4 linked regions of the Homo sapiens genome follow. The protein of the gene in region 3 purifies or fractionates together with the protein of the main gene of each other region. This does not show direct contact. Each region holds a gene or a part of one and is shown on either strand. Other genes may lie near its edges.

The links.
Region 1: the proteins of HSD17B6 (region 3) and ATP2B1 purify together in Homo sapiens (affinity purification with mass spectrometry; 3 studies listed by BioGRID and IntAct, with this or other methods). This does not show direct contact.
Region 2: the proteins of HSD17B6 (region 3) and ATP2B3 purify together in Homo sapiens (affinity purification with mass spectrometry; 3 studies listed by BioGRID and IntAct, with this or other methods). This does not show direct contact.
Region 4: the proteins of HSD17B6 (region 3) and ATP12A purify together in Homo sapiens (affinity purification with mass spectrometry; 3 studies listed by BioGRID and IntAct, with this or other methods). This does not show direct contact.

What each region holds. Positions count from the first base shown.
Region 1 is NC_000012.12:89,705,836-89,712,847, forward strand, and holds the start of ATP2B1 (plasma membrane calcium-transporting ATPase 1), read right to left. Parts: upstream 3,004-7,012; 5' UTR 2,761-3,003; exon of another isoform or gene 2,559-2,760; intron 2,313-2,558; exon of another isoform or gene 1,933-2,312; intron 1-1,932. UniProt on the Homo sapiens protein: Catalyzes the hydrolysis of ATP coupled with the transport of calcium from the cytoplasm to the extracellular space thereby maintaining intracellular calcium homeostasis.
Region 2 is NC_000023.11:153,513,633-153,520,652, forward strand, and holds the start of ATP2B3 (plasma membrane calcium-transporting ATPase 3), read left to right. Parts: upstream 1-4,009; 5' UTR 4,010-4,243; intron 4,244-4,799; 5' UTR 4,800-4,919; intron 4,920-7,020. UniProt on the Homo sapiens protein: ATP-driven Ca(2+) ion pump involved in the maintenance of basal intracellular Ca(2+) levels at the presynaptic terminals. Uses ATP as an energy source to transport cytosolic Ca(2+) ions across the plasma membrane to the extracellular compartment.
Region 3 is NC_000012.12:56,758,561-56,766,343, reverse strand, and holds the start of HSD17B6 (17-beta-hydroxysteroid dehydrogenase type 6 precursor), read right to left. Parts: upstream 3,021-7,783; 5' UTR 2,930-3,020; exon of another isoform or gene 2,922-2,929; intron 1-2,921. UniProt on the Homo sapiens protein: NAD-dependent oxidoreductase with broad substrate specificity that shows both oxidative and reductive activity (in vitro). Has 17-beta-hydroxysteroid dehydrogenase activity towards various steroids (in vitro).
Region 4 is NC_000013.11:24,704,394-24,711,414, reverse strand, and holds part of ATP12A (potassium-transporting ATPase alpha chain 2), read right to left. Parts: intron 5,103-7,021; coding exon 4,952-5,102; intron 4,393-4,951; coding exon 4,224-4,392; intron 4,137-4,223; coding exon 3,982-4,136; intron 2,052-3,981; coding exon 1,928-2,051; intron 1,733-1,927; coding exon 1,587-1,732; intron 956-1,586; coding exon 822-955; intron 624-821; coding exon 522-623; intron 98-521; coding exon 6-97; intron 1-5. UniProt on the Homo sapiens protein: The catalytic subunit of a H(+)/K(+) ATPase and/or Na(+)/K(+) ATPase pump which transports K(+) ions in exchange for Na(+) and/or H(+) ions across the apical membrane of epithelial cells.

The sequences.
Region 1 (7,012 bases), about 33 Mb from region 3:
ATCTACAGCTCAATAGCCAATGCTTTACATTGTCTATAGAGAAATTGCAAGTGTTGAATGAAACCTTAAATGCAGATAGAAGGGCAGTAATATTTTGCGGTTTGTAAGTAAGACTATATGTAATAATATCCACATCTTAATTCATTACTTGGGAGCTAAATCCCTTTTCTCATGTTACATCAAAAAAGGAGGCTGTGCCTAAAGAGACAGTGTTCCTTATACTTATGATTTGGGAAGGAAGGGAAGGGAAAGAAATCTCAACTGTCACTACAGTAACTCTTTTCTAAGTATTAAAATCTCCATTTATTTTTACATGAGATGCACCTGAGAGGAGCCATGTATACAAACCACTTTTTCTAACATGGTCTTTATTAAACTTTGAATATAAGTACACCTGCTCGAAGTGTTCATCTATATTATTTAAGAACAAGCAACTGTAAAACAGTAAAATCACAAAAGGTAAGTTGTTGGAAGACAACAAAAAAGAATTACTATATCTGATCCTGCGTGTTTATTTTAGAATCTGTTAATAGGCCTACAGCTAAAAAAAAAAAAAAAATTGTAAAGCCACTGTCATACTGGTAGGTACCTTTATTTGGTGGCAATGGCTAGTTCAAACCACCTATTAAAAGCAGCTATTACTTTCCTTCTTTTACCAAGAATATCCAGACCATCAATATTATTATAAACACAAATCAAAACTAGTTTCTCATCTCATCTCAGAATGCTAAAATCCCAAGCTTCAATAAAAAAAAGATTTCCCATACAATTGCAGAAATTTCTCTCAAAAGAGAAATGAGAGAATACAGAAAAATGAAGACAATTCCCCCTTACACGTCAAAATGGGGATGCCAATAATGACAGCTGCGATAAAAATCAAGAAGGCGTACCCCGAATTTTCACCATTTTAATAAAAGAAAATCACGAAATTTTAAATTAAAGGTGGCGCTCTGTCCTCAACTCACCCGAATGTGACTCACTTTTGCAGACTATATGGTAGGAAATTAACAGTTACTTTTCAAAGATCTTTGCAGTTACACCCAAGCCAAAATCAGGACAGAGATCCACCCTTAATTACAGCAATTTAGCTGTCTTATCTAAAGCAAGGTAAAAACTAAAACGTCCTCCTGAAATCATAGCTAAATAAGCCCATTTCATATACTAGCTATCAAAGGTTCCCAATTAAAAAAAAAATGTTTCTATTTACTTCAAATTTGAACTCACCAGGAGGATAAAGAAAAAGAGAGGGGAGGAGGAGGACCCAAATGAAACGCACAAGTACAAAAAGCAGATTCTCCTCCAATCCCTCTTAATTCCCCCAATCCACCCCTGCCACACACAAGGACAGGGAGTCTCGGGAAGGCTGGCATCGGGGCAAGTGGTGAAGGCCCTCCATTCACTCACGTGGGCCACCATCCAAAGGGTTACACACCCTCTGCCAGATGAGAGCCTCATACAAACCAGGCCCTTACAAGTACTTCTTATTATAAAATACACCCACGCTGAACAAAAGCCTTATTTTAAAATAAGACTGTCCTCAGGTGGGGGAGGTTAAACACAACAAAGGCTTCCATGTTGACAGGCAGACAAGTTCAGATATATGCATATACCTACACACGTATGAAAAAAATCTATGTAGCTAATTTATCACGAACAGCAATCGATACCAACAGAAGCCATTAGATTATTAATAAACCAAGAAAAGTAGCGGGCACAGAAGCGAAAGGTGGCTGTCTGCAGCGCTCTAACCCAAAGAAAAGGTAAATATCAGCCTGTCGAGGAGGGTCGAGCCCTCCAAGTACCTGCAGACCCCTTTAACCCACCCGGACGCCCTGCCCTCCCCTCCGAGCCAAGCAGCGCACAGGGTGCGAGCACTCCCAGCGCTGCGAGTCCCGCAGAAAACTGGTGAATGAAATGCGCACAGAGACCAACCTGGCTGGTGACCGCGGCGCAGAACCAGGGGTCGCTAACCAGCTTAGCCACAGGATTCTCCCGCAGGATGGGATAAAGAGAGCACAGCCCCCACCCCACACCCCTGCCACTGGAACGCGGTCCTCCTACAGACTCCTTCCTCAAAAAGGGAGGTGGGGGCGCAGGCTTTTTTCTCTTAAACTAAGTGAATAAACACGAATCGGAAACAACTGTGAACATCCTGGGGGGCCAGACGGAAGGCGTGAGGAGAAAGACCAGGCGGCTCTCCAACTCCCGAGGAATCACCGTCCTGACACGCCAACAATCAACCACCAGGGCCAGGGGCCGACCAGGGGCCCCCGCTCCCCTCCCGCAGTGCGTCTGGGGGGCCGAGGCCAAGGATTAGAGGGGTGACCCTCCCGGGGCGCGGGGAGAGGGAGTGCCGGGCACGGTGCCCTCAAGGTCACCACGCGCCGTGGCGGGGGCGACCGGTGGCGGGATGGGCTGTGGCGCGGCCGAGGCGGCTTCGTGAAGCCGAAGACCTGCGGGTGTAGACCAGAAGCCCCAACAAGCCCCATCCCTCGGGCCCGGAGCAGCGACTCCCAGACTGACCCGGCGCTGAGGTGCACGGCGAGAAGCCCGCTCACCTTCACAATCTCCCGGCAAGAGGCAACCTGCGAGGGGCCCCGACCGCCCCCGTCAGCTTCTCCCGAATCCGGCGCAACCCGCTGCGCACCCAGCTATCAGGATCCCCGCCGCGACGCCCGACCTCCGTGCTCCGCCTGGCCTCCCCCGCAGGTGACCTGCCCCGCCGCCCCCGGCCGCGGGCGGGCGGCGGCCGCCACTCACCTCGCCCGGCAGTGGGAACCATTTTCCGAGGGGGAAGGAAAGGCAGGCTGCGGGAGGGTCGCGGGGCGTTAAGGGGCAGCGGGAAACGCAGAGGATGGGGGCTCCGTCCTCAGCGCGTCCGCAGCCGGCTCGCAGGGCTCGGGGCGCCACGCGGAGGTGCAGCTGCACCTCGGGGATGGGGCGGCCAAGGAGCCGAGAGGCTCGGCGTCCACCAGCCGGGGCTCCCTACTCACGCTGCACTGCGAGGAGGCGGCGGCGGCAGCGAAGGAGGAGGAGGCGGCGCCCGGCCGTCCCCGCCCAGAGCCCGGCAGCCACCGAGTGGCCGCCCGCGTCCCCGCAGGACCCGCCTCCTCGGCTCCGCAGAGCGGCACACAGGGCGCGCCGCGCTCGCTCGGCACGGGCAGCTCAGCCGGCCTCACGCCGCCGTCCGCAACAGCAGCCGCGGGCGGGGTGCAGCCACCTCCGTGAGCGCCGCAGCCCGCCCCACTCGGGGCGGGGCCCGCGGGCACCGGAGAGCGGACGGCCGAGCACGAGGGGGCTGCGCGCAGCTCCGGGCAGGGACCCCGTCTGCACCGGGTGGCCTGCAAGATTGCCGGGGTAGGCAGGGGGAGGAGAACGCTCACCCGTTCCGGTCTGGCGCTCCCTTTTCTCCACACCCACACGCCTCCCGCTCCACGCTGGCGGCGCAGCTGCTCCCGCTGCCACAGCCGCCACCGCCGCCGAAGCTCGCGCCGCCGCCGCTGCCGCCTTGGCTGAGCGCGGTCACGTGACGCGATCCGCGGGGAGCCTGGGGGCGGGCGAGTGCGCGCGCGCGCGCGCGGAGGAACCGCGGCTCGGACCGGGACTGGGAGCTGAGCGGCACTGGGAGGGCGTTTAAGGGGAGGACCCGGCGAGCGCGCCCTCGGCTGGCGAGCGCGCGCCTGGCGATTAGAACTTGCCGCGCGGTCGGGAAAGGGTGGCCGGAGTGAGGGGCGGAGGTGGGGACTTGCGCCTCCGCACGCCCCTCCCTTTCTTCCTTCCCCTGAGCGCCTTGGCTTGCCGCTGCCCCCGCCCCCTCCAGCGCGCCCCTTCCCTCCTGCCGCAGCCTGCGATTGGCTGAGAGGCTCTGACGTCCGTGTTTCCATGACGTGTTGGTGCAGGAGGGAGCGGCGGGGGAGGAGGGGGTGGCCAGGCGCGCGGGGAGGTGACTCCGTCAGTCACAGCTGCTGTTTCGGCGCGGGGCCGGGCCGCTGCCGCGACGTGTGGAGGCAGGAGAGCGATGATTGCCGCAGGAGAAGTGCGGGCGCCCTTCACCTGGGGCCCCTCCCGAACCGCCCCCGGGCCCATGCCCCTCCAGGGCCCAGGAGCGAGCCAGCGGGAGGGCGAGGGCGAGCGCTCCTGGCGAGGACAGATTAAGGCGAACCCCCAGTCAGCGGACATTTGAGCGGCTCCTCGCCGCGTCTCTGCCCCCACTCCAAACCGGACTCGACGCCTGTCCCGGGCCGTGACGCACGCACCGGAGGAAAAAGTGCTTCTCGGCTCGCTCCCTCTTTGGGGAAGAGAGCTCACTCCCCATGCGGGCGCGGGACACTCCATCTCTGTTCCTGCCGGTCGGGTCCGCAAACACCGGGGATCCCAGCTGCGGCGCCCAAAGGGTTAACGCAGGCGTTCGGCCAGTGCAAACCGGCCTCGCAGGATCCGCGCTTAAAATCCGGGTGTTTTCATTTTGGGTTTGTTTCTTCTACTATGCCAAGCTGGTGGCTCTCTTTTAATTCTCTTGTAACATCTCAACCCTGCACCCATCTTTCCTGAGGGGAAAAGGAAACGGGATAACTTGCGGTATTTCGATGCTCAAAGGTAACCGGCGGCTCTGCTCCAACCTTCAAGAGATTTTGCAAGTTGAAAAAAAAAAAAAAACCATCCTTCGTAACATCTACTTAAAAAAAAAAAAGCAAGTTTTCCTTCTTGTACACGCATATACACAGTAAAGATGTGTATCTTACCTAAGATACCGCGCTTCATCTTCATCTAATCTTTATTTGAACTCACCGTCGCCACTGGCCCAGAGACCTTGTCAGTGTTATTTTCAGTATCAGTTAATCAGAACAAAAAGATAAGTTCTGCAATCTTCTTTCTCTTAATTCCAGAACTGGAAAATTAATATTTATATAGCCTCCTCAAAAGCATACAGGCAATAGGAAGTATGGTATTATGTTCACGATCTGATGATAGCATTTGTTTTAAAATATTTTAAAAGATTAGACACAAAATGTGTAAAAGACGTTTAAAAGTGAATAAATATAAATCAATGCTGTTGCAAATAATTTTTTTATCAGTTTATGTATCTCACTAGGCTTGACATTACCAGCCTTCTGAGCTGTGCCCTTGATGTGTAAGATAAACGAACATTGAACAGAATGATAGCATTTTTCCTCTCTTCAGTCACTGATGGAGAATTGGTTAATGTGGTACAATAAATAGCCCTTCCTGACACTATTTCAAATCTTTTTAACAGAAGAATAACCTAAATTTCACCTAATAAATTTCAATATTATTTCCCCCTAAAATATCTTTCAAAACGACTCAGAGACATTTAAGAATCACTGGCTTTTTTCCAACTTTTCCTCCAAGGAAGTTACAATACAATGTTGAATTATGTATTCTACTTTAATCAAGAATTTGACATTAAAGTAATATGTGAATCATTGCTATAGTACACTAGCAAAATGGGTAATAAACTAGAATCTGTTCACTTTGTGGGTTTGTTCCAGTTCCAGATTATAAAATGAATGCTCTTAAAGTGTTGTGGTCATGAAACAATTATTGAGCATCTTTATTTAAGAACACGATTCAATTAAGTTTTCATTTATATCGATAAATCTATAAATGAAACATACGGAATATATATATTCATGTATATCCATAAATGAAAACGTGTGTGTGTGTGTATCCCGGAACATATTTGTATGCATTTTAATGAAATGTGAGTCATATGCAATGACAAACTTTTACTGTCATAGTCAAGAAAATTGTACTGTAGTTTGGTTTTTATATTTTTATTCTTCAAATAGGAAATAAAGGGTGAAAGCAATATAGAAATAACTGTTCACATTACATTAAGAAATTCAATTTTTTTCTCCCACAGGCTTAGTACTAAAGCATCCCTCACACATATTTTTCAATGTAAAAATCAAGAAAATATTGCATTGCTTACTGTTTCCTTGAAAAAAAATTGAACTATCTGAAATCAAAGATGCCACTGTATGTAACAGTATTCTCTTAATCTTAGACCTAACTTATCCCATGTGTTTAACTGATCTAGAGATGTATCTTTGCATAAGGAACAATATAATAATACAATTTACTGGGGAAATAATATTTTAAAGTTCTTTTAATATGCATTTTAGCTACAATGCAAAACTTATAAAAGTATTTAAATCCAGTCAGGTGCGGTGGCTCACGTCTGTAATCCCAGCACTTCGGGAGACTGAGGCGGGCAGATCACGAGGTCCGGAGATTGAGACCATCCTGGCCAACATGGTGAAACCCCGTCTCTACTAAAAATACAAAAATTAGCTGGGCGTGGTGGCTCATGCCTGTAATCCCAGCTACTCAGGAGGCTGAGGCAGGAGAATCGCTTGAACCAGGGAGTCCAAGGTTGCAGGGAGCCGAGATCGCACCACTGCACTCCAGCCTGGCGACAGAGTGAGTCTCAGTCTCAAAAACAAAACGAAACAAAACAAAACAAAAAAGTATTTAAACCCCATGACAAGTTACCATATGAGATGTTAACATTGAAGAGTGGCTGCAGATTCAAAATAATATATTTGGTATTTTTAAGGTATGCTCTTTTTCATAGAGTAAATCTAAACAACTGAGATATTTGCTGAAAAGTTGATCGATTCAAGAGATATAACACATGAAGACAGTTTTCTAAAATCCTCAATGTAATTAAGTGTAAAGAGAAACAAAGAACTTTATTCTGTCACATGCATCTAGCAATAGGACAAAATAAAGACATATCAACTGCAGTGTATTTTAAAAAACATATTCTTTCCCCGTAAACACATTTTACATATGTGAATGCATCAGTCCTGATCATTACAGAATCCTAAAGAGGACTGATAAGTACAGGGAGGCAGAGAAGGAGGATATTAAATTCTTAATTTAAAATAGCTGTATATGTTCTCAAATTTCTATTAACCTGAATCACCAGAGAGAAGTGTCAAGAGAAAGATTACTTAGCTGAAACCCACAGAGAACTGTTATCTAT
Region 2 (7,020 bases), on a different chromosome or scaffold from region 3:
ATGGATGTGAGTGTGAGCGTGTGTGTGTTTCTGTGTGTGTGTGTCTCCGTGCATGGATGTGAGTGTGAGCATGTGTGTGTGTGCATGGATGTGTGAGCGTGTGTGTGTTTCTGTGTGTGTGTGTCTCTGTGCATGGATGTGAGTGTGAGCATGTGTGTGTCTCTGTGCATGGATGTGAGTGTGAGCGTGTGTGTGTGTTTCTGTGTGTGTGTGTCTGTGCATGGATGAGAGTGTGAGCGTGTGTGTGTGTTTCTGTGTGTGTGTGTCTCCGTGCATGGATGTGAGTGTGAGCATGTGTGTGTGTGGCGGGGGGGGATAACCCAGGATAACCCACATCTCAAGATTCTTCACTTGATGGCATCTGCAAAGACCCTATTTCCAAATAAGGCTGCATTCCGGTTCCGGGGGTTGGGACATGGACACATCGGTGGGGACATTTTTAGCCTGCCCCTGGGCTGCAAGTGGACACGGGCTTTGCCCCTGAGGCCTTGGGGAAGGGGCTGGGACCTCAGCCAGGGAGACAGTGGGCATGAGAAGACGGGATGGGGGCCCCAGGCCCAGCCAAAGGGGTCCTCACTTCAGAGCTGGCCAAGGAGCTGCTGTCCCAACAGTGGCAGGAGGGAACCTGGGCAAGGAGGGGGCATGGCCCAGAGGCCTGGGAGAGGACGGACCTGGTGACTGGGTAGGGGCCAAGGAGCCAGGAGAGAAAGCAGTTGTGGGAGGGGAGCGGGACTGAAGGGGCTGGAGGCAGGTGGAGAGAGAGAGGGGTGAGAGTGGGGATGAGGCGGCCAGGTGGGGCGGTGGGCAGCCGCTGAGAGCAGGGTGCTCTCTGTGGCTTTTGTTTCCCAGGCAGTCGTCGGCAATGTGGGAGAGTGGGGTGGGGACGGAGGCCTGGCGTGCCCTAAGGAGGCAGGTCCAGGGCATGGTGGGACAGGCTGGCTTGGGACCTGGGAGGGAGCTGGGAAGCAGAGTGGTCTGGGCCTCCCTGGGTTTGGCTCCCTAAGTACTCCCAGTGCAGAGGACAGGACTTGGTGTATGGGAGAACTTTCTAGCAAAGCTCCCACCTCTTTACTGATGGAGGACCCAAGAGGGGCTGGCCGGTGAGCAAGGATCACCAGTGACACTGGCAGCATTTGCCTGGCACTCAGGTGTCCTCATTCCCAGGCCTGGGCCCTCCCTCTCAGCCTCAGGGCTCTGGGCTGGGAACCAACAGACACAAACCAAGGAGAAAGGACCATCCCCTTACCTGGCCATTAGCTGTTTAGGGGCCACAATTTGCTGAGGACTAGGGACTTCCATGACACTTTGTTCCTTGGCCATCTGACCTTGGCCTCAGTGGGACTCATCACAAAGGTAGGCACCATGGCCAACTCTTGGCTGGATTAGCCATGAGCAGTGCCCTGGGGGCCCGGGGGAGGAGGCAAAGTGGTGGGGCAGGTAGCCCCTGCCTCAGATTTTCTCCCCTGAACTTGCTTCTTCCCCCTGGCCAGACAGGGCCTGTGCAGAGTCTGGGGTCAGAGAATAGGGAGGGGAGATGCATAAACACGCAACCCAGGCAGCAGCTGCTCCAAGCTCAGGGAGATTCCCCCATGTGGATAGCAGCCATCAGTTAAATGAACAGCCTCCATCCCTCAGCATGTTCCCTGGTCCCCGAGGGAAGACAGTGACGCAGCCCAAAGGGACTCTTCTCTTTGCTTGTCAGCTCTCACAGCCACTCCTAAGCCTTTAAGTGTGGGTCTCCCCAGCCCCACACCTGCCCTCCCAGAGCTGCCCACACATGTCTGCTAAGAGGTGCTTGTCTTCAGCCGGGACCCAACCCTTGCCCAAGGGATGCTCCTGCTGGGGGCCACGAAAGGAGGCCAGCTCAGCAGCCTGCTTCTGCCTTTGCTCACTCCAGAGCAGGGCCCTTGGGCCTGGGATGGAAGGACATGACCCCAGGGAGCCTGCCACAGTGTGGGAGGCCAAGAAGGAACGTGGCCTGAATGCGCTGGGGAAAGGAGCTCCTCTGCCCTCCTGTGGTGCCTGAGGGCATGGGGGCAGCTGGCCTCCCGGCCAGGGGCCAAAGTCCAGCTTACAACCTGCTCCGGGTGGGATCCAGTGCCCTCTGGGCCTCCACTTCCCCATCTGGAATGTGGGCTAGTAAGAGGAACGACTCCAAGATGGCAGGGCTCTGGCGAAATGGCCAGAACTTAGCTCATGATAAGTTTCCAGCATCATTGGGGCTTGCTTCAGTCTTGATTTTTCCCATTCGGGGCCATGGGAAGTCACAGGCTGTGTGTGTGTGAGAAGGGGGTGTCCCCATGGCGGCTCTGGGCCCGGAGGAGCACACGCCCCAGGCTCAGGAAAAGCTGCCTCAGAGTTGGAGTGGAAGGGGACTGCGGGAGTGTGCAAATGAATATGTGTGAGAGTGTGAGTGGGGAGTGTGTGTGTGAGTGTGACTGTGAGTAACTGTGTGTGAGTGTGTGTGTATGTATGTGCCCATGTGTGTGCTCACTGGGTAAGTGTGTGAGTTGTGTAGGTGTGAGAGCATGTAAATATGTGTGAACCATTGTGTAACTGTGTGGGCCACCGAGCTTGTGTGGGTGAGGGTGAGTGAGCACATATGACTGTGAGGATGTGTCTGCGTGAGATTGTGAGTGTGTGCATGAGTGTGTGAGTGTGTGTTTGTGTAAGTAGGTGAGTGAGCATGAGTTCATGCATATGAGCAGGTGTGAGTATGTGTGCGTGCATGTGAGTGGGTGTGAGTAAGCATGTGTGAGCGCACACATGACCAGGTGTATGAGTGTGTGTGTGCGTGCGTGCGCGAACCTCAGCTTTCCACGGCACCAGCTGCTTCCTGTGGAAGGGAGGGGCAGTCTGTGGGGGTTGTGACGGTTCCCTGGTCTCAGGGGCAGCAGAAGCTTTCTGTCCTTTTGGTCCCTAGCACAGTGGTGCCTCCTCAAAGAGGCCTTCCCTGAGCCGCCAGCAGCCTCTTTCATGGCTCCCCATCAATGGGGTTCCATAGCTCCGACCCCAGCGGCGTGAGCACATTTGCCATCCGACGGCCACTCCCTGCTTTGTGGTCCCTGCTGTGTCCCCAGTATTCAGCTCTGGTCTGGCACACAGCATGTCCAGGGCCCTCTTTGTCCAAGGCAAGAAAGAATTTGAGGCTGCGTCCAGGCCTCTTGCACCTGCCTCAGGCTCCCGCCCAGAGCCTCTACCTGTGCCCCAGCGAGCATTCTCTGCTCGCTGCTCAGAATGCTCGCAAAGGCCGGCCCTGGGGTCAGAGGCCTCCACAGCCCCTGGAGCTGGGAAGCCTGGGGGTCCACCGGCAGGCACGGGGGTCTCTTTCCAGGTAGGTGGGAACGCGTGCTTGTGGGTGTGGACAGGTGTCTGCACTGGGGTTTGTCTGTGTGTCTGTCTCCACTCACACCGGGGATGTATGTGCCCCTGCGTGTCTGTCTCTGGTGCCCACCTGTGTGCAGTCTCTGTGTTCTGCCTAACGGTGGTGTTCCCGTGATAACCGACGGTGAGGATCTCCGGTAAGCGCCGCTTCCTCTGGGAAGACGCATTTGGACGCCCGTACTCTCAACAGGTAATGGAGTTTGCAGGAGACCACCAATGCCTTGGAGTCCACTGAGGCAAGACCCAAGGACCCCACGCTACACATCAGCCACCCGGCTCTGTGCCCCATTTTACTGTTGGGGAGACGCACCTAGAGGGCAGGGTCTGGAGAGGTAGTGGCAGCCTCAGTCGCAAGCTCAGGGTGCTCTCTCTGCACTCACAGGTGCCATGGTCCCCCAGTTTCCATCCCCACCCACCCCCACTCGGCCAGTGCCCTTTGGGGGCAATGCCAGGCCAGGAAGGGCGGGCACCCTCGCGCGTCCTGGGGACAGAAGGGCGCGCACCGGGCGCGTAGCTCCTGAGCCCCGAGGCCCCTGCGCCGCGCACCGCCCCCCGCGCCCGCTCCCTCCTCCCTCCCTCCTCCTCACCCAGCTCCCTCCCCTCCCCCCTCCCTCCCTCCGCGCTCAGAGCTGCGGTTGGAGCCGAGCGCGCCGCGTCGCCCGCCGCCGGTGCAGAGCGTGGGGAGCACTCGGCCGCAGCCCTCGCCCGCCGCAGAGGGTCGCGTCCCGCGCCGCCGGCCAGGCCGCCCCGTGCCCAGGCCTTTCCATCCTTGGAGCGGATCGTTGCCCGCCTGACGCCCGCCCGCAGCGACAGCGCCCGCCGGAGCCGAGGCCGCGGCGGCGGCCGTGCCCATGCCCGGGTAAGTGGTGCTCTGGGCGCGCGGGCGCCGCCGGGGTGGGCGCGGGCGCGGCGCGGGCACAAGGCGCGGGTGGGGATGGGAGGATGACCCGGCAGGTGGTGCGGCGGCAGGTAGGGGGACACGGGTCCCCGCCCGAGGCACCTGAGCCCCGCGCCGGGCCTGCGTGTCCTTGCGGCACTGCGGCCGCGCGTCACCCCGGGGCCCCAGGCCGGCGGGCAGCGCCCCGCACCCTGCACCCTGCGCCCCGCATCGCGCGCGCACGCGCATCCGTGTCTGAGGAACAAGGCCCTTGGGGGCTGCGGGCCGGGGCTCAGGGTGGGCGCAGCCGGGGGCGCGGGATCTGGGCCGGGAGCCCGCCAGTGCGCACGCACCTTCCCGGAGCCTCGGGCACCCCCTCCCCCCCGCGCCCTCACACTGTATCATCCTTCCCCTCTCGCCTTCCCGCACCGTTCCCCGCACGCCCACGCGGCTGCCCAGCAGACCCCACCGCGGTCATGGGCAGTGCCCACGAGAAGCCGCCCGGGGCCGCACTTAGGTAACTTCTCCATCCCTCCAGGAACGGCTGTCTCCCCCTCCTCGCCTGTGTGACCTTGGCCAGCCAGCTTTTCCTGTGGCCGCCTGCGTTTTCTCACGGGTGAAAGCTCTGGCTTTAAGATTCTGGAATTTGGAATGGCAGGTGCGGCATCTCCCAGAGCCTGAGACGATGGGCTTCTCTCTCTGTGACCTGGTGTCCTTCCTTCTGCTGGCCCTTCTGGGGGTTGGTGGCTCAGCCAGCCGGCTGAGGAGGGGTGGGAGGCAGGGCAGGGGCATGGCGCCGGGGCAGGTCAGGACTGGAGGGAGTCTTGGAGAGCCCGCGGTGAGGGCTCCATGAGGGTTTAGGAGAGACTGTGGAAATGCTCCTTCGCTCACTCAAGGGGCAGGGAAGGGACCAGAATTCCTCAACGAGATGCTTGCCATTTCCTGGCGAGGTCATATAACTTTCAAAGATGAAGCCCAGGGCCTCCGACCTCAAAGGAGTCCCTGCCTGCTAAAGGATCAAGTCCAGCCTGTCCCCAACTGGCCCCCATCCTGAATTCCACTGGCACCCTAAACGTCAGCCGACTTCCCCTGGCTGACTTGGGCACCAGTCTGGCAGGCACCCCCTGCACCTCCTCCCCTCCTTTGCCCACTAGGATCTGTGCCCTCACCCCCTGCCATTGCCCCTCACTAGTCAGTGACCATCTTAAGGCAAGGACTGGCTCTTCATTTGCACAGGCCTGGCACAGAGTGGGCACCTGGTTTCTGCATGGCATATTCATGACCTTGACCTCACTGAATCTGCAGACTCACTGAACAGGAGAGGCAAGGCCTGGATTTTTGTCCCCATTTTTCAGATGGGATCATTGAGGCCCCCAAGAGGAGAAGGGATTCAGCCCTGAATTGAGGCCCCTTCCTTCATGAGCAGATGGCTAGGGACATTCCTATGAACCTGGTGGGGCAGGGAGGCGGGGAGAGGTTATCGTAATAATCAAAGACCAGCCCCACTTCCTGAGCTCCATCTGAGTCTCACCTCAACCACACGAGTGAATGGCTGTTTTCATCCCCAACCCCCACCCCCCGCCGCCACTTTTCACAGATGAGGAAACCGAAGCCATGTGGCTCATTAAAGGGGCACTGGGATGCCGAGGAGAGGGCTGGGGATGCCTGGGCCCCTGTGGGACACAGCTGAGACCCAGCAGAGGGTCCCAGGGTGAGGTCAGCCCCTCAAGTCTGCGCCATCGGAACGGGCTGGGAACTTGTGGTCCCCGGCCATTGATTGTCACTGCTGCAGGCCCCGAGGCGGGGGACAGCCAAGGACACAGCCAGTCTCCATCAGCTCCACCTGGGCCGTGCCCTGCACGGCCAGGTGGTTTGAGTGCAGGAGTAGGCATGCTCTCACACAGCAGGGGGTAACGGGCAGATGGAAGTGGGGCGGGCGTGGGAGGGGGCCTTGCACAGGGCCAGAAGGAGAGCCGGTCCCTGAGGAAGGAAGCCCCTAAGGCAAAGAGCATGCCAGGGGACAGCCACAATGCCAGGTGATGGAGATGCCCCAATCGGCCCCCGAGGGGCAAGGAAGGGGCCAGAGGAGGCTCGTGAGGGTGCCTGGGGCTTCAGTGACAGCAGCCCCTTACCTGATGGTCTTTGTGACCTTGGCCAAGTCCCTTCTCCATTCCAGATCCAGGGAGGGTGGGGGTGGGCCTGGGGGAGCTGGAGCTTCAGAGGTTGAATCATTCACTAGCAGGAGAAGCCAAGCCTGTGAGTCAGTGAGTGCTCTCCATCCCAGAACGTCTGCTCCCAGCCCAGGGATGCAGCCACGGAGTGCCGGGGTCAGCCGTGGAGGACCCTCTGAGAATGTCTTGTGGAAAGGGGCGCCTTGCCTGCCCGGTAGACAGGATGAGGGCGCCCCAGAGCCCCAGGGGCTTCTGAGAGCTGAGTACCCTCTGGGCCTCTTGCAGCCAGCAGAGCCAGGCAGAGCTTCTTCTGGCCTTTTCACCTCCTCCCCCACCTCACAGAGCAAGTCATCAGCACATATGAACTCCCCTCTGATTTTAAACTGATGGCTTGTGTATTTCACCAATGGCCACTGTCTCCATCAGTGGTCAGTAGCACATCAAGTAATGTCAACAATGATAATAGTTATAATGGCAGTCACTTTATGTCAGACACTGAGTGCTGCACAGACATTTCCTTGCCCACTTAATTGAAACAACAACAAATGATTGCAAGTGCTGTTATCCCCATTTTGCATTGCGGCTGAG
Region 3 (7,783 bases):
ACTACTCTGGATGATTCCGACTACCTTTTGTCACACGCGTCCCAGTGAAGAGATCACCAAACAGGCTTTGTGTGAGCAACAAGGCTGTTTATTTCACCTGGGTGCAGGCGGGCTGAGTCCGAAAAGAGAGTCAGCAAAGGGAGATGGGGTGGGGTCATTTTATAGGATTTGGGTGGGTAGCGGAAAATTACATTTAAAGGGGGTTTTTCTCTTGCAGGCAGGGGTGGGGGTCATAAGGTGCTCAGTGGGGGAGCTTCTGAGCCAGGAGAAGGAATTTCACGAAGTTAATCACTCAGTTAATGTGGGGCAGGAACAAATCACAGTGGTGGAATGTCATCAGTTGAGGCTATTTTCACTTCTTTTGTGGATCTTCAGTTGCTTCAGGCCATCTGGATGTATACATGCAGGTCACAGGGGATGTGATGGCTTAGCTTGGGCTCAGAGGCCTGACACCTTTCCTTTTCTTTCTTTCCAAGAACCTCTCTGCATGAGCTTTCCTGCCCCAACCCTGATTTTGTGGATAGTATAGAATCATGAGGCTGGGCACAGTGGCTCACACTTGTAATCCCAATACTTTAGAAGGCTGAGGTAGGCGAATTCCTTGAGGAGTTCGAGACCAGCCTGAGCAACATGGCAAAATCCCATCTCTACAAAAAATACAAAAACTAGGCAGGCATGGTGGGGAGTGCCTGTAGTCCCAGCTACTCTGGAGGCTGACACGGTGGGGGGAGGGGGTGGGAATCACTTTAGCCTGGGAGGTCGAGGTTGCAGTGAGCCATGATTGCACTACCGCACTCTATCCTGGGCAACAGAGCAACACCCTGTTTGGAAAAATTAATAAATAGATAATAAGAAAAAAAAGGATTGGTTTTTTGTGTGTGTGTTTTTGTTTTTGTTGTTGTTTGTTTTGAGACGGAATCTTGCTCTGTCGCCAGGCTGGAGTGCAGTGGCGTGATCTCAGCTCACTGCAACCTCTGCCTCCCAGGTTCCAGCGATCCTCCGGCCTTAGCCTCCTGAGTAGCTGGGACTACAGGCATGCAACACCATGCCCGGCTAATTTTTGTATTTTTTAGTAAAGACAAGGTTTTACCATATTGCCCAGGCTGGTCTCAAACTCCTGACCTCGTGATCCGCCTGCCTCAGCCTCCCAAAGTGCTGGGATTACAGGCGTGAGCCACCGCACCCAGCCTAAAAAAAAATTTTCTTAAATAGAATCATGAGGCCAGGCATGGTGGCTCATGCTTTTAATCCCAGAACTTTGGGATGCGAGGCAGGCAGATCACTTGAGGCCAGGAGTTCAAGACCAGCCTGGCCAACATAGCGAAACCTCGTCTCTACTAAAAATACAAAAATTAGTCAGGTGTGATGGCGGGCGCCTGGAATCCCAGCTACTCAGGAGGCTGAGGCAGGAGAATAGCTTGAACCTGGGAGGCAGAGGCCGCAATGAGCTGAGATCATGCCACTGCACTCCAGCCTGGAAGACAGAGTGAGACTCTCTCTCAAAAGAAAAAAATAAAAAATAGAATCATGAGCATAGACTCTGAGGCCAGATGGCCTGGGTTCAAAATCAGGCTTCGAGATTTACTTGTTCTGCAGCCTTGAGTAAGTGAACTGGCCTCTGTTCCTGTGTGCTCGTGTTCAAAATGGGAAAAAGAAACCTCAGTGATTTATTGAGAGGGTTAAATAAGTTAATGCATGTAAAGCAATACATAATTGTTAGATATTAGTATTATTTTGGGTAGTTGTTGTCTTATTATTGCCATATTGCCTTTCTCCCTGAGCCCTGTCTCTTCCCCTGAGCTTTCATAGAAGGAAACTGTGCCATGGGAATGTGCATTATCTGGTGCATTACACCACCACTTTTCTACAGTATGCATAACTCCACATATTGCAACATCCTTAATCATTTCTATCAGCTCTTTATCACTATTTTGGGCCATGCTCGTGCACCTTAACTTCCTTCTGTCTCAAGCGAGGACCTCTCTCTCTGCAATATAATACATGGCAAAGTAAGAAGTAGCCTTTATTCCCTTCTTTGGTTAAAATCTTCAGACATGGGTTTGTCTATAAACTCCAGTCAGCTTAGTCACTGATCCTAAGAGCAAGTCTGTAAACAGCACATGGCTCCCTGAACTGATCCACCATGACATTCTTTTCTTCCCACTTGGGCATACAGGCTAAGTATTCCTCAAGTCAATAATTGTTTTTTCTTTTCTTTTTGATTTTCTTTTTTTTTTCTTTTTTTCTTTCTTCTTTTTTTTTTTTTTTTTTTTTTGAGACACGGTCTCACTCTGTCATGTAGGCTGGAGTGCAGTGGTGCAATCACAGCTCACTGTAGCCTCGACCTCCTGGGCTCAGGTGATCCTCCCACCTCAGCCTCCCAAGTGGCTGGGACCACAGGTGTGCACCACCACACCTAGCTAATTTTTTGTATTTTTTGTAGAGACAGGGTTTCATCATGTTGCCCAGGCTGGTCCCAAACTCCTGAGTTCAAGGGATCCTCACTCCTCAACCTCTCAGAGTTCTGGGATCTTGGCCCAATCACAGAAGGCCCCTTTCCGCTTACCCAAAGTTTCACAAACTTACCCAACAGCTATCAGCATTAACCATTAAAGAGCTTGTTTCCCCCACTGCCGAGAATCCCGTTTTCAGAGGATACCCAGAGTCCCTATTTGTAAGTATGAAATCACTCCCAACTTGTAACCAGTACTCTCCCAAACTTCATGGGAGTAAAGATCAAAAAAGCAGAGCAAGCAATCGTGACAAAATTTCTTTCACGAATCAAAGTTGAAGGATCTTTTAAGATGATAAAAAATCATAATCAAAACCTGTCTCCAAACAGACCATATCCCATATCCCCTACACACACACACACACACACACACACACACACACACACACACACAACCACCCTTACCCACCTACATACCGGACTTGCTTAGGAAGAGTCCAGTCCTAGAGACTTGAAAGGACTTCTTTGCAGACCAGGCAGCAGTCGGCTTCCTCCTGCCCCAACTGCTGCCCACTCCAACCTCTGCATTGCTCTTATAACACCTCCCTCTTGTGGTAAGAGTCCAGGCTGCTTCACTCCCTCATAGGGTTCTCACCAGTGTCATCCTTGATCAGCTGCAGAATCAGATCTGTTACTACCAAAATGAAAAACAGAAAGAAAGAAAAGAGCTGCCCTGACCAGAGAGTCTTGTATGCTCCTCAGCCCCCATCCTCTAATTTTTTTTTTTTTTTTTTGAGACAGAGTCTCGCTCTGTCACCCAGGCTGGAGTGCAGTGGCATGATCTCGGCTCACTGCAACCTCCACCTCCCGGGTTCAAGCAATTCTCCTGCCTCAGCCTCTGGAGTAGCTGGGGTTACAGGCGCCTGTAAAAATTTTTGTATTTTTAGTAGAGATGGGGTTTTACCAAGTTGGCCAGGCTGGTCTCGAGCTCCTGGCCTCAAGTGATCCACCTGCCTTGACTTCCCAAAGTGCTGGGATTACACATGAGCTGACGCACCCAGCCCTCTATTTAATTACTGAGACAGGGTTTCCCTCTGTCACTCAGGCTGGAGTGCAGTAGCACAATCTGGGCTCACTGCAGCCTCGACCTCCCAGGCTCAAGTGATCCTCCCACCTCAGCCTCCAGAGTAGCTGGGACTAAAGGTGCACGCCACCATGCCCAACTAATTTTGAGTTTTTTTGTTTGTTTGTTTGTTTGTTTGTTTTTTGTAGAGATGGGGTTTCACCAGCTTGCCCACACTGGTCTCGAACTCCTGGGCTCAAACGATCTGCCTGCCTCAGCTTCCTAAAGTTCTAGGATTACAGGCGTGTACCACCGTGCCTGGTCCCATCCTCTAATTTAAACTGGAATATTACAATGCAAATCCCCTGCTGGAATGGGGTCAGAGGGCAGGTTGATTTTAGCAAAGCCCACTTCTTAAGACTGCCAACCTGAGATCAGCTGCTGCAAGCTGGGGCTGGCTCAGTCACCTTTCTGAAAGAACTGCAGCTGTTTCATAGCTTGAGCCCTGGACCTAGGGTTGTGTGTGTGTGTGTGTGTGTGTGTGTGTGTGTGTGTATATATATATATATATATTTTTTTTTTAAGTAACAGCTTTATTGAGGCATAATTCACATATCATACCATTCACTCTTTTGAAGTGTACGATTCAATGGGTTTTAGTATATTCACAAGGTTGTGCAACAATCATCACTATCTAGTTTCAGAATACTTTTATTATCCCAAAAGAACCCCATACTCCTTAGCAGTCACCTCCCATTCTTTCCTCCCACACCCCACTCCTGGCAACCAGTAATCTACTTTCCATGTTTGTGGATTTGCCTATTCTGGACACTTCATATAAATGGAATCACACAATATGTGACCTTTGTGACTGGCTTCTTCTGTTTAGCATAATGTTTTCAAGGTTCATCTATTTATCAGTACTTCATTTTAATGTCTGAATCATATTCCATTGTGTGGCTATTCCACGTTTTGTTTATGCATCCATCAACTGATAAACATTTGGGTTGTTTCTGCTTTTTTGTGTTATTATGAATAATGCTGAAACGAATATTTACATACAGATTTTTTGTGTGGACATGGGCCTTCAATTCTCTTGGATATATGTACCCTAAGAGTGAAATTGCTGGGTCAAATGATAACTCTATTTTTAACATTTTGAGGAATTCCCAAACTGTTTTCCAAAGAGGCTGCACCATTTTACAATCTCACCAGCTTCATATGAGGGTTCCAAATTCTCCACATGCTCACCAACACTTATTATCTTTTTTTTTTTTTTTTTTTTTTTGAGAGGGAGTCTCACTCTGTCACCCAGGCTGGAGGACAGTGGTGCAATCTCACCTTACTGCAACCTCTTCCTCCTGGGTTCAAGTGATTCTCCTGCCTCAGCCTCCTGAGTAGCTGGGATTACAGGTGCATGCCACCACACCCAGCTAATTTTTGTATTTTTAGTAGAGACGAGTTTTCGCCATGTTGACCAGGCTGGTCTCAAACTCCTGACCTCAAGTGATCCACTCACCTCGGCCTCCCAAAGTGCTGGGATTACAGGCATGAGCCACCGTGCCTGGCCATATTATCTTTTTTATTTTAGCCATCCTAGTTGGTATGGATTGATATCTCACTGTGGTTTTGATTTGCATTTCCCTAATGATTAATGATGTTGAGCATCCTTTCATGTGCTTATTGGCTATTTGTTTGTCTTCTCTGGTGAAATGCCTATTCAAATCTTTTGCTCATTTTTTGTCTTATATTAAATGTGACGAGTCACAGTACGACCCCGTAGTAAAATCGTACTTAGGGAGAATCACAACAGTACCTCAAACTCAACACATTCAAAACTAAAATGATGATGATTCACTGCAATCTGGTCCTCCTCATTTTCATGTTATTTCCTATCTGCATATGTATTCAACAAATTTAATAAGTGCTTAATAGATGCCAGGCAACTCCCTTCCATCCAGTTGCCCAAGTCTGAAACCTGGGAATCATCCTAGACCCCTTCCTCATCCCCCATGTCCAATCAATATTAATTCTACCTCCTTAAAGTCATTATGTCCATCCCATCCCTTCCATCTCCACTTTACTGCCTTAGCTCAGGCCATCAGTATTTCTCACCTGGTTTCCGGCAACAGTCTGCTAGGATTGCTCCACCTCTGGTTTCTCTCTACCCTCCTATTTGCCCTCTACAGGGCTCCAGAGTTTATTTATAAAACACAACTCTGAGGCCGGGGGCGGTGGCTCACACCTGTAATCCCAGCACTTTGGAAGGCCGAGGTGGGAAGATCACTTGAGCCTAGGAGTTCGAGACCAGCTTGGCCAATATTGCAAAACCCCGTCTCTACACAAAATACAAAAATTAGCCGGGTGTGGTGGCACATGCCCATAATCCCAGCTACTCGGGAGGCCGAGGTGGGAGGATCACCTGAGCCTGGGAAGGTTGAAGCTGCAGTGAGCCATGATCATGCCACTGCACTCCAGCTTGGATGACAGAGACCCTGTCTCATAAATAAACAAACAAACAAACAAAACACAACTCTGATTATGTTTCTACTCTGCTTAAAACCCTTCAATGAGCCAGGAATGGTAGCTCACATCTGTAATCCCAGCACTTTGGGAGGCCAAGGCAGGTGAATCAGTTGAGGTCAGGAGTTCGAGACCAGCCTGGCCAACATGGCAAAACCCCACCTCTACTACCAATACAAAAAAATTAGCTGGGAATGGTGGCACATAACTGTAATTCCAGCTACTAGGGAGGCTGATGCATGAGAATCGCTTGAACCCAAGGGTCATCGCTTGAGCTGAGATGGCGTCACTGCACTCCAGCCTGGGTGACAGAGTGACACTCTGAAAAAAAAAAAAAAAACCCTTCCATGGCTTCCCATTGTCTTCACACAAATCCAAATTCCTATGAAGGAACAAGGCTTAATGTTGTGCTTTAATGTGAATCTGCCAATCCTTTATTTCAAGCAGTCTGCAAGGAGAAAGCTAGAGCCAAAACATGTATAGCCTTATGGCTAACAAGAGAACCTACACAATATTTATATTGGCAGATTGCTTATCTAAAGTCTGGTAGGTTAATTTACAGTTTAGGTTTTAAATACTCAGTTTCCTATACCAAACGCACCAAATAGATTAAAGAGCAATTGCAACGTCCCAGAACACGTTTTATTGGCTTTGTGATCATCACGTGCTCTGTTAGAGGGAACATTCCTGTGAGATCAATCCAAAACTCTGGCATTTAAACAAATATGATGGAACTCTCTGCTACTTTTCAGTAGTTTATGATAACAAGAGACAGAGCTTATCATATTTAAACTGAGATGTGACTTTGGCCCCATTCTCCTTTTGTTTATTATGCTCCTGTGTCAATAGAACATATTTGAAACTGTCCTTATGAACCTTTGAAAATTAATCAGGAAAGCAGGGAGAGAAAGAAATGAAAACAAACCAAGCTTGCAACACATTCAGCATTAATCATTAGGTCAGCCGGCTCTCTGACCTGCTTTCTCATCGTTGTTTAGGCATATTGTCCTAGAATCACATAGATCAGACAGTATAGTTCCCCTTAACTGCTCTATTATAGATAACAACTTGAACATTATAAAATGTTGTTTCCATTTGAGATATCCTTTCAGGTCCTGCACACCAGTGAAACTAATGAGGTCAGCTGATCTGAAGGACCCCATCGACATCAGCAGTTCTGAAGGATCATACAAGGAGCTGACTCACTGAATGCAGTTTCCACATCCTGACGACTTCATCCCTTTGACCCCAACCACTCAATGACCCCAATTTTCCAGTCCCTCATTCTCCACAATCCCCTTAAAAACCCCAGCCCAGAACTCCTCAGGGAGATGGACTTGAAGATCTCCTCTCATCTCCTTGCTCAGCCGCCCTGCAATCATTAAACTCTTTCTCTGCTGCAAACCCTACTGTCTCAGTGTATTGGTATGTTGCTGTGCAGTGGGCATACAAACCTGTTGGTCCTGTAACATATTTTCTAATCTTCTCTTCTTTATTTTATTAACAAGGAAAATAACTAACATAGGAGTACTCCAAGTTTTCAAGCAACTTACTTACTTCAACAGGATTTTAACTCCCAAGGCTTCTTGTCAAATATTAATAGGATCAATAGTTTATTTTCATTTTAACCAAATAAAGTAGATGATGAATAATTTTTACTTCCACACTCCTTAACTTGGCAGGCAATGCTCTGACCATGGCTTACCTCTTAGCCCCATCTCTCACTATACCCTCCCTTGAAGTCT
Region 4 (7,021 bases), on a different chromosome or scaffold from region 3:
CTCACTTCCAGGGTAGAGCCTGATGAAGAGCTTCCGCACCTCATCATACACCCAGATCAGGATGGCGTGCGGCACAGCCACAAACCAGTACTGAGCCCTGGAAGCAAAGGGATGGAAAGTGAACCCTGACTCATCCACAGGGATAGCCCAACCCTGCCCAATGGGAATGGGGCTTCTCGTTCATTTGTCTTGCTTTACTGCAAAGAACGACAAATCCACGAGGTCCCACAAAATAAAGGTGGAAAGCTCCTTGTTTAACCTGCACTGTGACTGCTAGAAGCAATGTCTGCCTTTGAAGCAACCTGTTGGATGAGGATGAAGGCCGGTTGGTGAGGTCTAGAAAACCCATTTCCACTTCTGGAAAATGCAGATCAAAGCTTTGGGCTCACAGAGCATGGGATCAGTTTGACGTCTTTTGAAAGACTTGGGGAAGAACCCTGGGAATCCTCAGGTTTATTTAGGCTGCGACAGCTCAAAGCAGAGGCTGGCTCTTTCCTCCATGCTGTTGAGGGTGAACTCACCTAAGCATGGTGAAACTCAAGGCTGTGACACTTCCGAGGCCATAGGAGAGGATCAGACCAATGATGATCTGTGAGGTGATCCCCACCCAGATGACTTTATTTCTGCAAGACACACAAAAGCAGACAGACTTGGGATTCTTGTGGCTTCATGATCATACACCCAGCAGACCATGCCACCAGAAAAATCAATGCCTCTGGGGTTACAAGTGTGGCCAGAACTCTGTCTTGTGAAAAACAAATCATCATCATCCTTGCACGGCAGGCCCAGGGCTGCCCCAGGAGGCCGGGCACAGGCAGTACCTGAAGAGACCCTGCTGGAAGATGGAATTCCTCCGGGTTTTCCTGATGATCAGATCTGCTATTTGCTGGACTAGGATGCCAACAAAGAAAGCCGTGTAGCCCGTCCATTCTAGGTATTCCCTCTGGTACCTTGTCTGTTAATGGGCAGAGAAGGAAGAGACCTTGAGGCCTAAAGGAAAACTTCTAGGAAATTCCAATGCAGTTCTCTAAAGCTTCATGTTCTTTCCACACCTCACCCGGACTGAGAATGGACCACCTTCTAGTGTTTGGAAAGAAACATTTTTCTTTCTTGAACCAGCTGAGTAGAGAAAAATGTTAATTTTTTAAAAAATTATCATTACTATTATTTCTAACACAGGCAGGGTCTCACTGTGTTGGCCAGGCTGGTCTCAAACTCCTGGGCTCAAGTGATTCTCCCTCCTCAGCCTCCCAAAGTGCTGGGATTATAGGCATTAGCCACTGCACCCGGCCTGAAAGATGTAAATTTATTTGGCCGCACTGTGGGTGTGGCTGGGCTGGTCACTCTTCTATACCAATGGCAAAGCTAAGGTAAAAAAAGGGACCTCTTGTCATCTAGCCCAAGACAGGAGGCTGTGCCATGAGACCTGGCAAAGGCCAAACACGTGTCAGCAAGGGGGCCCTGAGCCCTATTAATTGAAGCTTTCCCAGGCTGTTCAGGGACATGGAGGTTCTATGTAATTCTGCGCAGGGCAATGAGCATGGAGAGAATCAGGTGGACTCTGCAGCAGGGCTCCCGCCACTCACCCATTCCTGCCCATAGCTGTCTTTCAAGTCATTCACGTAGTCCTTCTCCCATTCTACCCGCAGGTTAATGAGAGTGCGGGGCAGAAAGCCCTCTTGTGCATAGACGGTGAAATACACAAGGAAAGCTCCCAGGGCTTGCATGAGGCCTGAAAGAACAAGAGAGATAGGACACAGGTTCTATGATGGCCTCAGGAAACTGCCTCATCCTGTCTACTCTCGGTTCCCCCTCCCTCCCCAACCCAGGCCCCACAGGAAAACCACACTTTCTGGCTGTGCCCCCCACTCCAGTGAATTCTCGGGGCAGGCCCTCGTGTGATGGGGAAGACGCGCCCTCATCGTACCAATGTGCAGGTATGAGTACACAGCGAGCGGCTGGTTCACCAGCCTGTCCTTATTCTTGTGGCGAGGCTTCCTGTTCATGATGTCACTTTCAGCTTTCTCGTACGCCAAGGCAATGGAGGGGATCTAGAGGGGAAGAGGCTGGTGAGGTCTAACCCCAGGATGTTCTGCTCTACCCACAGTAGGGGAGGGGGGCTGGGGTGGGTGGGGCACTGGCTGGATGGGGTGGGGGGCATGGAGCTGGCCCATCCAGGCTATAGGCAGTAGAGGGCGTGTTGTCTGTATGGAAATTTAAGAATAGTGCCTTTAGAAATCAGCTGCTTTTTATCACCCTGTGCTGGCAGTTCTGAAGGATGCTGGTTATAAAACACTCTTCCCCTACAGGGAGAATTTCTTGTGCCGTCCTCTCCCTCCAGGTGGGAGGACCTGCTAAGAGACAGATCATTGCGCCCCACCTCCAGACTTCCCAATTCAGGAGGACTGGGCTGGGGCCAGAGAATTTGCATTCATTTCTCTTTCTCTTTCCTTCTTTCTTTCTTTCTTTCTTTCTTTCTTTCTTTCTTTCTTTCTTTCTTTCTTTCTTTCTTTCCTTTCTTTCTTTCTCTTTCTCTCTCTTTCTCTTTCTCTCTTTCCCTCTCTCTCTTTCTCTCTTTCTTTCTCTCTTTCTCTTTCTTTCTTTCTCTTTTTTAAAAGACAATGGGTGTACAACCTATTTCCATTCCTAGCCCAGTTATCTGGAATAAGATTTTTATTTTATTTGTTCTTAATTTTTATTTTTTAAGAGACTAGGTCTCTCTGTGTTGACCAGGCTGGACTCAAACTCCTGAGCTGAAGTAATCCTCCTGCATTGGCCTCCTGAGTAGCTAGGCTACAGGTGTCCACCAGTGCCCAGAGTGTGCATGTCTAACAAGTTCCCAGGTGATGCCCGCACCAGGCCTGGAGAAGCACTGCAGCAGAGCAAAGCAGGCAAATGTGAAGGGCTTGGAAAATGATCCATCAACTTTGGGGACCTCAATACCCCTCAAAGGGAAAGACATCTCCAGTCTCTCTAGGAATTAGGGATTACCTGGGTGTTGTAGAAAACAAGAGAGGGGAAGGGGGCAATTTGAAGGGGAAGGGGGCACTTCGAAGGGCCAGTTTCCTGCTAAGAATTCAGCTTGCTGTCTGTTGCTTTCCCTGCTTGCCCACGTAAGCCACAGCCACATGGGCAGCTTAGACGGGGCTTTCTTTAAATGGATACTGGAAAAGGGGAAGGTTTAGGTGACATTACTGTAGGGCAAGGCTTTATAAAGTCTTCATAACTGCTACTTCTTACTGTGTTTAGGTAAAGGTCTTCCATGTCAGACTCTCTTACTTAACAAGAGGTGGCTGTGAGATTATCACTTTAGTCACTGGGCCCCCAGTGGTTATTTGGGTGATTAATCTGAGTGACAGCTTCATCTTCCCAAAAGAAAAGGGAAGCCCATAGGCTGAAACTGACCAATGGCATTTCTTTTTTTTTTTTGAGGATGAAGACTCATGTCTTGAAAAGCTTGCTATAGCTCAGGTGCAGTGACTCATGCCTGTAATCCCAGCACTTTGGGAGGCCGAGGCAGGTGGATCACTTGAGGCCAGGAAACCCCATCTCTACTAAAAATACAAAAATTAGCCAGGTGTGGTGGCACAAGCCTGTAGTCCCAACTACTTGGGAGGCTGAGGTGGAAGAATCACTTGAGCCTGGGAGGCGGAGGTTGCAGTGAGGCAAGATAGCACCACTGCACTCTAGCCTAGGTGATGGGAGTGAAACTCTGTCTCAAGAAAAAAAAGCTCACTATAGAGTGTTTTTAATTTCCAAACATTTGGCAGATGCCTCTGGTCCCTTGCTTTGAGGTGTGGCATGTGGACTGGTAGAATGGGCACCACCTGAGAACCTGTGAGAAATGCAGAGCTACAGGCCCCATCACATGGAAGCTGAGAAGCCTTGAGTTAGTCCATCCCCGGCCCTTGAAGGTAGCGACCCTGAACTTGACCTCCCCTGGGGCAGGCATCACAGCCTGTTCCCTTCAGTGTCACTTACAATGTCTGTCCCCAAGTCAATGAACAGAATGGTGATGGTGCCAATGGGCAGGGGGAGCCCGACAATGATGTAGATCAGAAAGGGGCACAGCTCGGCAATGTTCTTGGTCAGGGAATAAGCAATAGTCTTCTTGAGGTTGTCAAAGATCAGGCGACCTAGGCAGAGAGGTTTCTCCTTCAGAACTTACTTCTAGTCCCCCAGACCACCCTGGCCCTTGGGAAGACCCCCTGAGACTCACTCACCTTCCTCCACCCCTGTGACGATGGATGCGAAGTTGTCGTCCAGCAAGACCATGTCGGCTGCATTTTTGGCTGCATCAGAACCTGCTATCCCCATGGCAATCCCAATGTCTGCCTTCTTTAGAGCCGGAGAGTCATTAACTCCATCCCCGGTCACAGCAACAACAGCATCCTATGGCGGGGGACCCAGGGAGAAAGTGGGAGTGAGCAGGCCCAGTGGGTTGCAGGCCTGGCAAGAGCAACAAGACTTCCCTTTCTCTTGAGGTTGCGAGGATGATTATAGCTGAACGGAAAGGCCCATTTAGGGGAAAAGATAAAGATGAGAAATCTTAGAAGCAGGAACAAGGGTCTCCAAACAAGATACGTGCAAATGAGGAAAACCTAATGCGCAGGTGTCTTGTATCTTATGTCTTCACATTTTTTGTTTTAAATCTTTGCATTTTAAATCTCTCTTTACTCACAACTACCACAGTGGCAAATGCTTCACCGGGCTCTCATGACAAAATGCAGAGAGCTGGGGTGAGCCTTTCGGGGAACATGTGGTGGGGGTCTCAAAGGAGGACAGGGGCCAGCCCACCTGAGAGGTTGGAGAGGTCAGGTGATGGGGATGAGCCAAGAACTCTCTCTTGAAGTTTCAAAGGCACCACAGCCTGATGTGAGATCCAGACCTCTGCACTTGCCCATGGACAGTGATGGGCCTGTCAGTCCTCTGGACACTGCTGTCCACCCACCTGCCTCTGACAGCCCTCCACAATGATCAGCTTCTGCTGGGGGGATGTCCGGGCAAAGACAATCTCCTGGTAGTTGGCTAAGATCTCATCCAGCTGTTCTGAGCTCATGTCCTTCAGCTCCATGCCAGTCACCACAGCGGCCTTGGCATCCCTAGAAGGGCCAGAAGAAACTGGGTGAGGCCCAAGGGCAGATCTTAGGTTGAAACACTGTTCCAGGCAGGATGCTGGCTGAAGCCTCTCTGACTTGACCTGGAACCCAGTGTCCTTGATACCTAATGCTCTAGTGAGGTAACAGGAGTCCTGGGAACACTTTAGTCTCCATTTCAAGAGGGCAAACTGAGGCTAAAATATAACACCATTTCTTGGTACCATATAACAATAGGAATAAAAAACCAGGTAGCCTTATCCCTACTAGAACAGGTGAGAGTGGTACTTCCTAGAGCAACGCTTTACTTCAGAAGTAAAAGGAAGTTAAAAAACTGCCCATTCATGGCCAAACGCAGTGGCTCATGCCTGTAATCCCAGCACTGTGGGAGGCTGAGTAGGAGGATCACTTGAGGCCAAGAGTTCAAGACCAGCCTGGGCAACATAGTGAGAGCCCCTGTCTCTACAAAAAATTTTAAAAAATTAGCCAGGTATGGTGGCATGTGCCTGTGGTCCCAGCTACTCAGCAGGCTGAGGCAGGAGGATTGCTTGAGCCTGGGGGGTTGAGGCTGCAGTGAGCCATGATCATGCCACTACACTCAAGCCTGGGTGACAAAGTGAGACCCTGTCTCAAAAACAAAAATAAAAATAAAACCCCCAAACTGCCTGTTCATATGTTTTGGGTCCTAGAATTCTTTTATGGCCAAACAAGGGGTAATAATTACTTGCCGTTGGGTATTTCAGATTTACAGAGTGTCATCTTTGTGCAATGTGCTACGTAGGCAGAAGTTTACTGAAGTCTTTGAGCAGCGCTATTGCCTGCTGACTATAAAAGTAAGGTTCTAGGGCCTATTGATTATGCAGAGCTGCCTGAGCCAGTCCCCTGCTAAAACTCTTCAGGGGCTTTCCACCGTGCTTGGAGCAGACCCCGGAATCCCTAACTTTAGCCAGCGAGCCCAGGTGGGGCCTGCGTTGTCAAGCTTCGCCTCACCTTGGGCTCTCCCTCCTGCCCGCTGGATGCTCTCAGTTCTGACATCCTCCATCCCCTGTACCCTAAGGCCTTCACGGGTCTCGCTCCCTGACCAGGAATGGGCATCTCTCACCTCAGCTTCTCGTGGCTAACACTACATTTCAGCCTTCAAATCTCAGCTTAAACAATGTAGGTACAAACTGCTGCAGGTCTTTTTCTTTACAATTTGCAAGTTTTGAGCTTTCTAGGTCTGTTTTACCTCTTGGTGCTAAATACTGGAATTCTAGCACTTGACTCAAACTACAGGTCTCCTTAACCGCTGGCAAAAAAACAAAACAAAACAAAACAAAAGAAAGTAAGAGAAGAAAGAAGGGGTGTTTCCTTTCCCCTTACACCTGCTAAGATGCAATTTTTATATGGTCATGAAACTAGAGCTGATGAAGTGAATAACTGAAAACATTCACAAAAGCATCCACTTCACTCAGTGTGGTGATTTGTATACAAATGTGTAATCCACTCTTCCCTTTTGTGGCCATGAGCAGAGTGGCAGTGACCAAGAGGAAGTGCAGTCCCTTTGTGACTTTTGACTGAGGCAAGAATCATAAAAGTCATTTCAATGCACCTTCCCACATTCGTAGGAAGATTATGTCTTTCTCTCGTTCCAAAGAGCTGAGACAGAAGCACATTCTGGAGTCTGCTACAAGCACAGTTCCATCCATGCCCATCTGAAAGGATGAGGAAGTTGAGGTTGCACAAAGACACTATACGGGCCAGCAAATTGGCAAAGCAGTCCAGGTTTATAGGAAGAAATGTGCCACCTATACTGAACAGGAGCACAGGAGGAGGCTAAGGGCAGGACCGTCGTGTGCACGTCACCAGCACATGGCCATCACCAGGCTAAAACTAGACAAAGACCACAAAAGATCCTTGAATGGAAGGCCAAACAAATCTTCCTA